Linked DNA regions of Homo sapiens. The protein of the gene in region 2 purifies or fractionates together with the protein of the main gene of each other region. This does not show direct contact. Each region holds a gene or a part of one and is shown on either strand. Other genes may lie near its edges.

What was found.
Region 1: the proteins of ABAT (region 2) and PGM2 fractionate together in Homo sapiens (co-fractionation; 2 studies listed by BioGRID). This does not show direct contact.

What each region holds. Positions count from the first base shown.
Region 1 is NC_000004.12:37,829,518-37,836,810, reverse strand, and holds part of PGM2 (phosphopentomutase), read right to left. Parts: intron 6,848-7,293; coding exon 6,680-6,847; intron 2,194-6,679; coding exon 2,087-2,193; intron 1-2,086. UniProt on the Homo sapiens protein: Catalyzes the conversion of the nucleoside breakdown products ribose-1-phosphate and deoxyribose-1-phosphate to the corresponding 5-phosphopentoses.
Region 2 is NC_000016.10:8,768,514-8,775,806, reverse strand, and holds part of ABAT (4-aminobutyrate aminotransferase, mitochondrial isoform 1 precursor), read right to left. Parts: intron 6,983-7,293; coding exon 6,834-6,982; intron 3,028-6,833; coding exon 2,890-3,027; intron 918-2,889; coding exon 750-917; intron 1-749. UniProt on the Homo sapiens protein: Catalyzes the conversion of gamma-aminobutyrate and L-beta-aminoisobutyrate to succinate semialdehyde and methylmalonate semialdehyde, respectively. Can also convert delta-aminovalerate and beta-alanine.

The DNA.
Region 1 (7,293 bases), on a different chromosome or scaffold from region 2:
TTCTTTGACATTTTTCTCAACTTCCACAGAAACTTGCTTAGGGTAAGACGCAGAAAATGGCATCAAATCTTCCTTCAAGCTGGTGTAAAATACGTTACCACAAATAAATGAGCGATTTACTTAGAATGAACAACATTATACCACCCCTGTGAGTTAAACAATCAGATCATTCTTACTCTCCCCAAATACTTCTTGGGCACTAGCTTCGCCGACACTATTCTGAAGGCTGGCTGGGGCACAAAGAGCAGATCGCCACTCTCTCTCTCTGTTACAAATGTGCACAAAAAAATGCAATGCGTTCTCTGCATATACTTAACAGTTACTGCTTACGTTCCCCACCAGATATTTAAAATTGGAAGATTAAAGGATAAACATCTCCTCGGGCGAAATTCAGAAACTGCAATAGTTTCCAACTCCTTACGAAGATTCCATTCACTCATCATGAATATTTTACCATGTGTTGGTTAAACACTTACATTATGATCTCTAAATGTCTCACGCGTTACAGGTGATAGAGAGTAGCCTTGAGTTCCACTCCATCCCATCCCATCAAACTCTGAGACTTGAACCATAAGCTTAAATCAGTAACATCACTCACTTTAAGGAAATGATACGGCTCCAAGGCCAGGGCAAAAAAATCTGTACCTTAATTGATAATGTTAACATATCTCTGAAGGTTGTATCAACCAGAAGCAGGGCAGTCAGCCCAAAATGAAGAAATTTACGCAGCTCAGCAGACAGACTTAGCCACATACGTGCACTTTGCATGCTCTGAGCAAAGGATCTGACTTGCCCTGGGGCGGCAGAGGAACACGGTCACGATTTAGTTCTGATTGTACATCCACTAACTGTAAATGACAAGCTGATATGCTGGTTTATACCACATCATTCTCTTGTGAATGTAGTTCATGTGCATCTATCCCCCAGAGCTATAACTTTTCTCTTGCTTTATTGACAAAAAGCACATTTTTGAGCTGCAAAGCTAAAGACTAAAAATCTTATGCCCTCCTGAGTTGAACCTGGGGCTGATGCCACCGGGTGATTTTCCCCGGCTATGCACCCTTCCTCACGGCCACACGTTTGTCCCCACGAGTGCTTCTGTCTTAGATTGGAAGCTCCTGATGGGCAAAGATAGGACTCTATAAACTCATCCAGCTCTGTAAAGCTAATAAGACTTTTCATTAATATTCAATATGTGTAATTCTAAGCTACTACTAATACTGATACTCTAGAATGATTAAAAATTCATCATAACAGAGGAAGTGTTCAAGTAAAAAAGAGGGTTATGTAACATGGTTACGGGCAGGGGTTGGTAACTACAGCCCATTTTGTAAGTAAAGTTTTACTGGAACACTGCCATGCTCCTGTGTTTATGCATTGTCGATGGATGTTTCTCTGCTTCATGGGAGAGGTGAGTAGTGGTGATGGGAATCATGTGATATGCAATGTGTATGATATCCACTATTTGCCCTTTAGAGAAAAAGTTTGCTGACCCCTGGTACTAGTGTCCTTAGGCTTAAATTGCGACTCCTCCTTTCACATTATAATCTCAGGGTAAAGAGATAAAAGTACATACCTTACACGTTGCTGTGAGGATAGAATGAGTAAATACATAAGTGTCTGGTTCATAATCAGCACTCAAATGATTGCTGCTATTACTATTATCATTGTCACCATCAGCATCATATGCCTTCAGCTACATAAGAGAGTCCCATTGGTTTGAGAATGTTTCAGAAATGCAGCTTGACGTGGGCGTTCAAGAGAGGGAAGGGGGTCATGAGGTTTATGAATAGCAGGGTAAAAATTATGTATAAAAAGGCAAATGAGAGGGAAAAATAATATTGCCAGTTTAAGAAATTTCTTTCTTTTAGCTAGGTATTACATTCTAAATTGTCTAAATAATTTTATTTCCTTAACCTAATGTAAAACCAGAATCTTTAAAAGTTGCCAAGAGAATTTACCCATTGTTTTTACAGTTAAGCAATGAGGCTAATGAATATATTAAAGTCAAGTTATTGAGATGGTGATTAAAATAAAACTGCAAAATAAATTATAAAAACATCATTTTGTAAAAATGTTTAAATACCTTCTGCTGCTACCCCCACTGGATGGATGAGCTCGGGCGTCAAAACTGATCACGATGCCTTTCTGCTTTAAGTCACTGAATTGTTTTTCCAGGTATCTGCAAAATCCCTACAAATACACCATAGATTTAAAAAGTATGTTTTAACATATTTTTATATATACCATATAGAAAAATTAGCCAAAAATTAAGTTTTCTCAAATTTCATAGAACACTATGGGAGAGAGGGAAAAATTCATCTCAGTAAGGAAGCAAACTGAACAATAATAAAATAACAGCTTTGTTTATTATCTATGTTTTTGTATTGGGCACTGTGTTAGTCATTGATCACTTAGTAGCTGTTATCTCTAACCTCAGATCAACTTTGTTAGGAAATTTTTTTTTTTTTCCAGAGACAGGGTCTTGCTCTGTTGCCTAGGCTGGAGTTGCAATGGCACAATCATAGTTCACTGCAACCTTGAATTCCTGGGTTTAAGCAATCCCCCCCTACCTCAGCCTCCTGAGAAGCTAGGACCACAGGTGCATGCTACCAGGCCCAACTAATTTTTAAAAATTTTTTGTAGAGACAGGGTCTTGCAATGTTGCCCAGGTTGGTCTTGAACTACTGTCAAATAATCCTCCTGTCTTGACCTCCCAAAATGCTGGGATTACAGGTGTGGGCCACTGCACCTGACCAGAAAACCCATTTTATAGATGGGTAAAATAAGCCTCAGAGAGGCACAGTGACAGTTTCAGATATTCGAGTAGCAGAGCCTGGATTTGTATCCAGGGCTGGTGAGAGGTAGTTCAGTGTAGGGCTTAAAAGCACATACTCTAGAAGCACAATCTGAGAATTTGTACTCCACGCTGCCACCTACAAGCAAATGACAAGTTCCTTAATTTCTTGGTGCCTTAGTTTCCTCTTCTGTAAAACAGGAATAACAATAATACCTACCTCATAAGGAGTAAATGAATGAAAACATGCAAAGTGCTGAGAATTCAACACCAACTAAGTACTATATTAAGTGTTTGCTGTTTTACGCATTATTTTTGTTGTTATTTTCCTTCAAAGCCATATAAAACAAAGAGAACTCTGGTTGATTGGGCAAAAATAATGATTCATTTTATATTATTTATTTCACTTTTGCTAAAGGAAGTCTTATTAAAATATACATAACTCTTTTTCTTTTGAGATGGGGTCTCACTCTCTCCCATGCTGGAGTGCAGTGACACGATCATGGTTCACTGCAGCCTCAATCTCTCAGGCTCAAGTAATCCTCTCACCTCAGCCTCCTGAGGTGCTGGGACTACAGGCACATGCTACCATGTCTGGCTAATTTTTAAAAAACAATTTTTGTAGAGATGGGATCTTGCCATATTGCCCAGGCTGGTTTCAATCTTGTGGGCTCAAGCAATCCTCCTGCCTTGGCCTCCTAAAGTGCTCGGATTACAGGCATGAGCCACCATGTCCAAGCCATAATTTTTATTTTGGGTAGGAGGGGATACATCACAGTCTTGTTGCGAGAGCCAAGCTAATTTAGAATGCCTTTAGCTTTTCCTTGACAAATACATTGCACTGGGATTATCTTCTGAGGCTGAGTGATACAAGGAAATAAGGCCATGTGTATTGGTTTTGTGGGTTCCCCAGAAGGTACCCAGATGCCTGATACTTCAAGACTTACAACAGTGACAGTACCCCTCTTCCTGCTCAACCCTTGAGCTGTGGCCCCAATGCTCCATGGGGCAAAAAAGCATTCACATCTCCAGATTCTCTAAAAATCTCGGAGGCCTGCTGAGGATGAGGACCTGAAAGAATGGCCAAGGGAAAAGGGAATTCTTATTCTAGATGAAAGACTCAGTGGGGGAAGAGGGAGGTTTTCAGAAATAAAATGTTATTATAAAACATAAGAAGCAAGTTTATGTGTATGACCTTCAAAAAGTAGAACTAAGACCAATATGTAAAGTCTACAGAAAGGCAGATTTTGGCTTAAAATAATGAAACCATCTTTTAATGAGAATGGTCCAAAGATAGAATGGCCTCTTTCAGAGGACAGTGAGTTTCCCATCACTGGTATGCTATGGCTAAATTAAATAATCTATGAACACAGAACCCAAAATAGAACATAAATAAAGCATAAATTAATTGGCAGGAGGAAATTATAACCTCTATCAATGAGGCAAACAATACAAAAGTTTCCTCCAGTCTCTGTCCTGTTTCCTTTGACATATTTTTGAATCACATACATCTGCTTCTTAAATGAACCAGGCAAACTTTGGGGTACCTCAGAATGAGGCTCCACACCCAGAGACCAGCAGGAAGGGCACCTATGCCACCATGAAAGTCTGATCAGTGAAAAGTGACAAATATATTTGCATATCAGCATTCTGCCAGGGAACACTACCCAAGACTGGGTAGAAACCTGGGTTGTTTGTTCTGGGAATCCTCTTGCCTCTAATTTTGAATCCACTCCTAAGATTTTAAAGATATACTTGCTGCTCAGATAAAACTTTCTTAACTCTTCACATCTCTGTCTCCTATTACAAGTATCCAAGAATAGGCTGAATGAGCACTTCAGAGTGGTGGGGTCATGGAGAAAATTATCCCAAGGGGTGTCTGGTTGAATTACATGACCTTTAGAATATTGATCATCTATGTTTACCACAGGGTTTACCCCCAGAGGAGATGAATTCTAGGATAAAAATGGGTAAGATAGTCCTTAATGGGAATACATTTCATTATTCTCAGAAACTAGATATAGAAAAATACAGGGGAAAAAGCTCTAGGTTAATCTAGAATCCCTTAGAAACCCCTAACAATTAGGCCCAATGGCAGGTGTAACCAACTGGATTGTCCAAAGATGGCCCCAGTAATATAAGCCATCTCACATGTTCCTCTTACAATGTGACATCAATGCTCCTTTAATGAGAAGTGGGTATCTATGTGCCCTCTCCTTGAATATGAGACAGCCTTATTGACTCACTTTTAACAAACCGAATACGGTAGAAGTGACACTGTGTGACTTTCAAAGCTACGTCATAAAAGTCAGCACAGCTTCCAATTGGCACATTCTCTCTCTCTCCCTCTCTGGATACTTCACTGAAAGCCAACCACCATGTTATAAGGAAGTCCAGGCCACATGAAGGGGTTCCAACCCCAGCTAAGATCCCAGCCAATAGCCAGTAATAATTTCAGACGTGTGAATGAAGGTGCCTTCAAATGATTCCAACCTCCAAACTGGCCCAGATGGTGCTGAGTGGAGCAGAGACAAGCTGTCCCCACTGAGTTCTACCAAAATTGCAGATTTGTGAGCAAAATAAATGTGGTTGTTGTTTTAAACCATTATGTTTTCAATGATTTGTTACATAGCCCTAGTAACTGGTACAGAAGGCAACCTTATTCAGCAGCACAGTTCCTATGTTATCCATGAACCAAACAGGATTCCCATACTTACCCCATTCTAAGTCTTTCCTCCAGCATCTCAGGGAGCCCTATTGCTTAATAACAATTTGTGACCAGGAGTTCCCATGGCAATTCTTTTTTTTTTTTTTTTTTTTTGAGACAGAGTCTTGCTCTGTTGCCCAGGCTGGAGTCCAGTGGCACAATGTCGGCTCACTACGACCTTGCCTTCCGGGTTCAAACAATCCTTCTGTCTCAGCCTCCCAAGAAGCTGGAATTACAGGTGCACACCACCACGCCTGGCTAATTTTTGTATTTTTGGTAGAGACAGGGTTTCACCATGTTGCTCAGGCTGGTCATGAACTCCTAGGCTCAAGTGATCTGCCTGGCTCAGCCTCCCAAAGTGCTGGGATTACAGGTGTGAGCCATCGCGCCTGGCCCCTGTGGTAATTCTATACCCTTAGATAAGCTTTCCTTGTTGGAGTTTTGTTACAACATGCCCAGCTCTGCCTTTTACACTGGGATGTATACGTGAGGCACATGTAATCACTATTAGGCAATTTTTTCTAGCCTTTCTTTTCCCACAATTAAAGTGACATTCATCATCAACAGGTCTAAGGTGAAGAAATACTGATGTGAATAATCTGTTCTATTTCATTTCCCTCATAAACAGTACTGCCAATACCCAGTAGAAGCACTTCTGTTTTGTCAAATTATCTCCTTCCTAAAAGCTGGGTCTAGATTCTGACAAAAATATTCACAAATTAAGACAGACTCAATCCATACTATAAAACAAAGGAGAACAGGCTCTTGGTAACTCCGGCAGTTAGAAAAGCTTTTTAGCACTTGCTATGTAATCATGGCAAAAATTACAGGACCTTAAAAGTTGTCAGCTTAGTTGGTGCATTTATACTGGAATGAAAGCTCCATGAGAGAATCTGTTTGTTCGAGTCATTCTTATATCCCCAGTGCTGGCACATGGTATGTACTCAATAAGTGTGTTAAATGAATGAATGAATGGATGGATGGCTATATGAGTCCTGAATAAGTGCTACTTCGACCTATTGTGCAAGCCTTACTTTATGGAGTAAATGGTGGTGACTTCCTGTGTCTAGCCAAGCTGGTAAGACATGTCTATAATTAGAATAAATTAGGTCTGCCAAATAGAAAATGAGCTAGGGGATACATTGAGTTACTAAGAATTATAAAAAACATGGTACCTGTGTAGTCTGGATGATGGTCAAGTCATTCATACGAGAAATTCCAGGTCCCATAGCAGCTCGGAGGCCAGCTGTCCCAAACTCCATTCGGGCCCCAAAACATTTTCGTAGTTCTTCTTTATTACCTTCTGCTATTAGTCGTTTCACTGCCTCCAAAGTTAAGGAATTCTGAAAAACAAAAATGTATAGACACAGCCAGACAAGTGAATGAAAAATCAGAAATGTAAAAAAATTCACAATCATTCTAATCTATAGAAAATATATATATATGTATATATATATATGTAGACCTTTCAATTTTCTGATGCTTTTGAAATCTGAAATATGAAGTCAGTTTGACATTATAATGTAAGTGTTCTTTTCTTTCCTGTCAAGGTAAGCACCTTTGGAGAAATCAAAGTAGAGATTTTAGCATATGAGTCTAACCCCCAGAATGGAATCCCAGAATACCACTTGCCAACTCTAGGTGCTTGCGCAGATTATTCCAGTTCTCAAATTCTGTTTCCCTATTTGCAAAATGGGAATAATCTAGAACCTCCCTTACACGATTTTTAAGGTTTTAAGGTGGTTTACTTCAAATTAATGTAAAATATCTTTCTCTACCTGGCATTTAG
Region 2 (7,293 bases):
GGGTCTTAGTCAAGTATTGGAAATAGACATATTATGTGAGATTTCTAGAAAGGCTGCTAAAGACAAGAAGGGGGCCACTTTGTCCTTCCCTTCTTTTTCTTTCCTACTGCCTAGAATTGAGATGTGATGGCTGGAGCATCAGAAGCCATTTTGGACCATGAGGCAACCTTGAGGGTAGAAACTACATGTAGGAATGGTGAAAGGACGTTGGCCCCTGATGGCTGTGTGTGTGTGTGTGTGTAAATCTGTATGCACACATGGCAGTACACAGTGTAGTGGGTAAGAGTATGGGCTCTGGGTTGGAATCCTGGCTTTGTCACTTAACAGGCTGTGTGACCTTTGACAAATTACTTAACCTCTCTGTGCCTGATTCCTCATTAGTCAAATGAGGATAAAAATAACAGCTACTTGGTTAGATTGTTCTCAGGATTAAAAGTATATGAGAAATACTTAGAACTAGGCACATAGCAAATGCTCAGTCTGCTGCGGCAGCTGTCGATGATATTATTGTGTGTGCACACAGAGAGAAAACAGGAAAAGGCTGATGGTGGACTGTTCCAGAGTTGGCCTTACAGAGAGAGCTGGGAGGGCACACCACTGCTAATTGCATTGATAAGAACTGGGACTTAGAAAACCTGCGACCCAGTAAGTGCCCACCCAGCTCCTCGATGGTGAGAAAGGAACAGTTAGGAGAAGAGGATGCTCCCTTCTCTGCCCTGGATGTAGAGAGAAGGTTGGCTCCAACTCACAGCATTAGGCCTGAACTCCTCCTTGTGGAAGAAGCCCCCAGTCATCATCTTCTTGCTGAAGGTCATCACGTCTGCTGGGTCATCCAGGCCCCAGTGCTCATGGGCCCAGAACTTGCCCGTGCAGCCTCCTCCGGTCTGGACCTCGTCCACCAAGAAGGCGCAGCCATGCTGGCCGGAGAAGAGAGAGGAGGGAGAAATAAACACCCGTGGGAGGCCAGAAATTCATGCCCTCCATAGCCAGCTAACTGCCAAACCCTGGGTCCACACACATCGTGCTTGTTTTCTGAAGAGCAAACCAGCCCCATGTTCTTGAGCTGTGCACAAAAAAAACTAATCAAAACACTTAAGCTGAGCAGTTCCAACCAGAGCTGAATCTGAGTGTTTCCTAAAACTGCTAAGCTGGACCAAAAAAACCCAGAACATTAAATACTCCCTGCACCAACACAGAGCGGTATGTCATCTGGCTTCAGTCTCGGGTCTCGACCTCGTCAGAGGGAGCTGTGTCCAACAGTGAGGCCTCGAATGTGCTTCTCAAACTTCAGCTGCCATGTTCTGCTTGTCACCAAGGCTATTTCTAACTCAGCATCTGTGTTAAGTCAACTCACGTCTTATAACTTTTATCTGTGAACTTATCGGTTTGATTGCCAGTTATATATGCACAAGACATTAAAACAAACACACAATATAAAGAAAGCAAATCAGTGTGTCAAAGAGATACCTGCACTCCCATGTTTATTGCAGCACTGTTCACAATAGCCGAGATACAGAATCAATCTGTCCATCGATGGATGAATGGATAAAGTAAATATGGTACATATACACACTCGGCAAGGCGCGGTGGCTCTCACCTGTAATTCCAGCACTTTGGGAGGCTGAGGCGGGCAAATCACCCAAGGCCAGGAGTCTGAGCCAATCAGCCTGGCCAACATGGCGAAACCCCGTCTCTACTGAAAATACAAAAATTAGCTGGGCATGGTGTCGTGCACCTGTAATCTCAGCTACTTGGGAGACTGAGGCAGGAGAATCACTTGGACCCAGGAGGCAGAGGTTACAGTGAGCCAAGATCGTGCCACTGCACTCCAGCCTGGGCAACAGAGTGAGACTGTCTCAAAAAAAAAGAAAAAGAAAATATGGTACATATACACAAAGAAATACTATTCAGCCATAAAAAGAATGAAATTATGTCATTAGCAATGACGTGGATGGAACTACAGGACATTATGTTAAGTGACATAAGCCACACATACACAAATATTGCATGTTCTCACTCAGGTGGGAACTAAAAACACTTCCCTTATGAAGAAATAGAGTCGAATGACGCCTATCAGAGGCTGGCAAGGCTAATGGGGAGGTGGAGATAAATAGGGGTTGGTTAATGGATACAAAAGTACAGTTAGATAGAAGAATAAGATCTAGTGTCCAGTAGCACAATAGGGTGATTTTAGTTAATAATTTATTGCATAGTTCAAAATAGGAGTGGATTTGGAATATTCCCAATACAAAGAGATGATAAATATTTTAGGTGATGGATATCCAATTACCCAGATTTGATCATTACGCACTGCAACTATTATGTATCCAAAAAGGTTTTTTAAAAAGATTTTAAGGCCAAGTGTGGTGGCTCAGGCCTGTAATCCCAGCACTTTGGGAGGCTGAGGTGTGCAGATCACCTGAGGTCAGGAGTTCAAGACCAGCCTGGCCAACATGGCGAAATCTCGTCTCTGTTAGAAATACAAAAATTAGTTGGGTATGGTGACGTGTGCCTGTAGTCCCAGCTACTCGGGAGGCTGAGGTAGGAGAATCACTTGAACCTGGGAGGTAGGGGTTGCAGTGAGCTGAGATTGCACCACTGCACTCCAGCCTGGGTAACAGAGTGAGACTCTGTCTCAAAAAAAAAAATATATATATATGTGTGTGTGTGTGTGTGTGTGTGTGTGTGTGTGTGTGTGTGTATAGTTTTAGGGAAGAATCCCCATTCTTTCACCAACCCCAACTTCTCCACCCCTGATGCTGACAGACAGCCTCTGCAAGTCTGGAGATTGACAGAAGCTCCAAGGCAGAGGTGCTGCTGGCCCGTTACTCGGGGAACTCAACCCAGAAAACCCAATGGCTCCATCCAACCTCGGCCCTGTCCACTGACCTTCCTGGCGATGTCTCTCAGCTTCCGAAAGAAGTCATCGGATGCGTGGTTGTCTCCACCCTCGGACTGGATGGGCTCCACGATGATCCCGGCCACCGTCTTCTTCTTTTTCCGATATTTCACAATCAGATCCTCCACCTGGATCCCAAAGGGGAAAGTGACCACCGATGGCAGAGGCTTGTGACCAGTATCCGTGGGTGGGAATCTGGGGTTCGATGAGCCCCATGCAATTTTATTGGAAATGTGTTTGTGTGCATTTCCTAAGACCAGTGAAGCCTCTGTTAGAAGCTATGTGTGTGGATGGGAATGTATCCTACTTGAAATCGGTGCTAGCACCTGGGTGGATACAAACTAATAAATTGGGGCAAGTAATTTAGCTTCAGAAGCCTCACTTTCCTGATGTGTTGTATGGGCACACTGACAGAATCCACCTTCCAGGGTCGTGGAGAGGACTGAATGAGAAAATATAGCACTATGAGTTGATTGCTGGGCCAGATGTTTTAGCTGTGGTTCTGCCTCTGTTTTACATGGAACATGCACCTGTCACTTAACCTTGTTATGTGGGAAATAGCTACATCACGGGTATATTGAGAGAAATAAAGGTGAGAGCATTCACACACACACACACACACACACACACACACACACACACACACACACACACAGAGACAGAGAGAAAATACAGCAGAGTCTGGCACACATAAAGTGGTGGCTGCTACTATTACGATTAGCACGACTATATTATTATTGATTATTATTGTTCCTATTCTTACAGTATTATTGCTATGATTGGTGTGAGAATCCTTTTGGGGCAGAATCGGAGATATATCCTCGGTTAAAAAACTGTTCTAAGGGCCAGGTGTGGTGGCTCACACCTGCAATCCCAGCACTTTGGGTGGCTGAGGCAGGAGGATACCTTGAGGCCAGGAGTTTGAGACCAGCCTGTGCAACATAGCGCGGTTCATGTCTGCAAAACATTTAGAAATTAGCTGGGCATGGTGGCTGCGTGCCTGTAGTCTCAGCTACTTGAGAGGCTGAGGTGGGAGGACCCCTTGAACCAGGACTGTGAGATCGCAGTGAGCTATGACCACACCACTGCACTCCAGCCTGTGCAACACAGCAAGATCCTGTCTTTGTTAAAAAGAAAGAGGCTGGGCATGGTGGCTCACACCTGTAATCCTAGCACTTTGGGAGGCTAAGGCGAGCAGATCACCTGAGGTCAGGAGTTCCAGACCAGCCTGGCTACCATGGTGAAACCCCATCTCTACTAAAAATACAAAAATTAGTTGGGCATGGTGGCTCACGCCTGTACTCCCAGCTACTCCAGTGGCTGAGGCACGAGAATCGCTTGAACCCAGGAGGTAGAAGTTGCAATGAGCCGAGATATCGTGCCACTGCACCCCAGCCTGGGCAAGAGAGTGAAACTCTGTCTCAAAAAAAAAAAAAAAAGAAAGAAAAACCCTAAACCGTACACCTAGATAGACTAACAAGTGAAAGCTTTCTTTATTATGTACAATTAAGAAAAAGCCTCTGTTTGGGTGATATGATTTTGACCTTGGTCTCCACCAGTCACCCCAAGGAAGCTCTGAGATACTTTTCTTGGTTTTCTTTTTTTTTTTTTTGAGATGGAGTTTTACTCTTGTTGCCCAGGCTGGAGTGCAATAGCGCAATCTCAGCTCACCGCAACCACCACCTCCCGGGTTCAAGTGATTCTCCTGCTTCGGCCTCTGGAGTAGCTGGGATTACAGGCATGCACCACCATGCCCGGCTAATTTTGTATTTTTAGTAGAGATGGGGTTTCTCCATGTTAGTCAGGCTGCTCTTGAACTCCTGACCTCAGGTGATCTGCCCGCCTCAACCTCCCAAAGTGTCGCAGTTACAGGCATGAGCCACCGCGCCCGGTTTTTCTTTGTTTTTAGAGCATTGTGCTGTAAGTGTAAAATACACACAGTGTTTCAAAAACTGAATACGAAGAAAAGGACTATCTTAGTTTGTTTAGACCTAAATAAATGAATTTTTAAAATAAAGGAATTTTTAAAAAGGAATATAAAAATCACATTGTTTAAAAATACTAATTACACATTTACGTGATAATATTTTGAATATATTCGGTTCAATAAAATGCTCTGAAAATGAATTTCACCTATTTCTTTGTAATTTTAAAAAACGTGACTCCTGGCCACGCACGGTGGCTCACACCTGTAATCCCAGCAATTTGGGAAGCCGAAGTGGGCAGACCACTTGGGCCCAGGAGTTTGAGACCAACCTGGGCAACACGGCAAAACCTGTTTCTGCAAAAAATACAAAAATTAGCCAGGTGTGGTGGTGTCATGTGCCTTAGTTCCAACTACTCAAGAAGCTGAGGTGGGAGGATCACCTGAGCCCAGAGAGGTCGAGACTGCAGTGAGCTGTGATTGCACCACTGCACTCCAGCCTGGGTGACAGAGTGAGACCCTGTCTCAAACAAAACAAAAGAAAAGAAGGCCGGCGCGGTGGCTCACACCTGTAATCCCAGCACTTTGGGAGGCCGAGGCGGGCGGATCACAAGGTCAGGAGATCGAGACCATCCTGGCTAACACGGTGAAACCCTGTCTCTATTAAAAATACAAAAAATTAGCCGGGTGTGGTGTCAAGCGCCTGTAGTCCCAGCTACTCAGGAAGCTGAGGCAGGAAAATGGCATGAACCCAGGAGGCGGAGCTTGCAGTGAGCTGAGATCGCGCCACTGCACTCCAGCCTGGGCAACAGAGCTAGACTCCATCTCAAAAACAAAGCAAAACAAAACAAAGCAAATGTGACTCCTTGGCAGTTTCCAGGCAGGGTGTAAAAATGAAAGAAAAGGTGACTACTGGAAAAGCTATAATTACATATGTGGCTTGCATTATATTTCTATTGGACAGTGCTGTACTTGATGCCATTATCTTGTCTTTTCTATTTACCACTGAATACCCAGCACCTAGCACCTTGCTTGACATCTAGTAGGTGCTCAATAAATATGAACTGATTGAAAATGATGATGTGCCTAAGAAAAAAACCAGCAGCCTTATTTGAGTTCAAATCTATACCCAAACAGTGATATTTTTTTCCAGCTGCAGATTACTTCCAATGTCTTCCCTGGAACCCCCATATACTGAGTGGATCTAAAGAGGGCTGTGTTAGATGACGTGGAAACGGGGGGTAGGGGGGTGCTGCCTGTCCTCAGCCTCTCCCATAGCATCCCCCGACCCACAGCAACTCAAAGCCCCAAGACTCAGGAGAAGACAAAACCAGTGGTTTAGAGGATCTTGTGGAACCATTTTTTCCTGTGGGATATCCCATATTCTTTCTTTCTCTCTCTCTCTTTTTTTTTTTTTTTTTTTTTTGGACAGAGTCTCACTCCGTTACCCAGGCTGGAGTGCAGTGGTGCAATCTTGGCTCATTGCAACCTCTGCCTCCCGGGTCCAAGGGATTCTTGTGCCTCAGCCTCCCTAGTAGCTGGGATTACAGGCATGTGCCACCACACCCAGCTAATTTTTAGTAGAGATGGGGTTTCACCATGTTGGCCAGGCTGGTCTCGAACTCCTGGCCTCAGGTGATCCTCCCGTCTCAGCCTCCCAAAGTGCTGGGATTACAGGCGGAGCCACCGTGCCCAGCCCCATATTCTTTCAACTGATCTGTTTTCTCTTATTTTAGAGTCATTGACTCTTGTCTTCCAAGAAACTTAAGTGATACAGAAATTGGTATCAGAGTTGGGTGATGGATGCTGTGACAGAAACAGTGTGTCTCACGAACTCTCCCAACATAGAACATTTGGGACGCAAGGCCTCTGTGTCCCTGCTTCCCTCTGGGGGAGCACTGCACAGATCCCCAGATAAACCCTTCATCTGTTTCTCTTCTCCCCAAGTCTTGGGGCGGCAAGAGCAACAGGACTGGTGGTTGGGGAGGATCCGCAGGGTATGAGCATTACCTCTTCCAGACAGCGGGCCTCCTCCTGTTGGTTCTCTTTCACAAACTCTTCCAGAGGGTATTTCAGCCGTGGGAACGGTGCGATGGGCCAGTCAAAGGAAGGGATGTCGATCTTGTGAATGGCTTTAGAGTGCGTGGTCGCTAAGCAACCTGAGTTCAGCAAAACAGAAAAGCAGACGCTTGGCTTGGGGAAGCAGGCAGTACCGTCTTTGTAAAGGAGATGATAGACATTTCAGCGCAAGGCTGTCAGTGGGCAGGGAGGCCTGTTGCCTGTGAAACCCCAGTTCTTTTTATCGTTTAATTTTTAATTTTTCTGGGTGCATAGGAGGTGTATATACTTGGGGAGTACATGAGATGTTTTGATACTGAACCCCAGTTCTCATCCGGAAGCTGAAGGGGGACTCTCGAACCCTTAATTGGCATGCGTGCGTGGGTATGTGTTTGCATTGCGATTAATCACA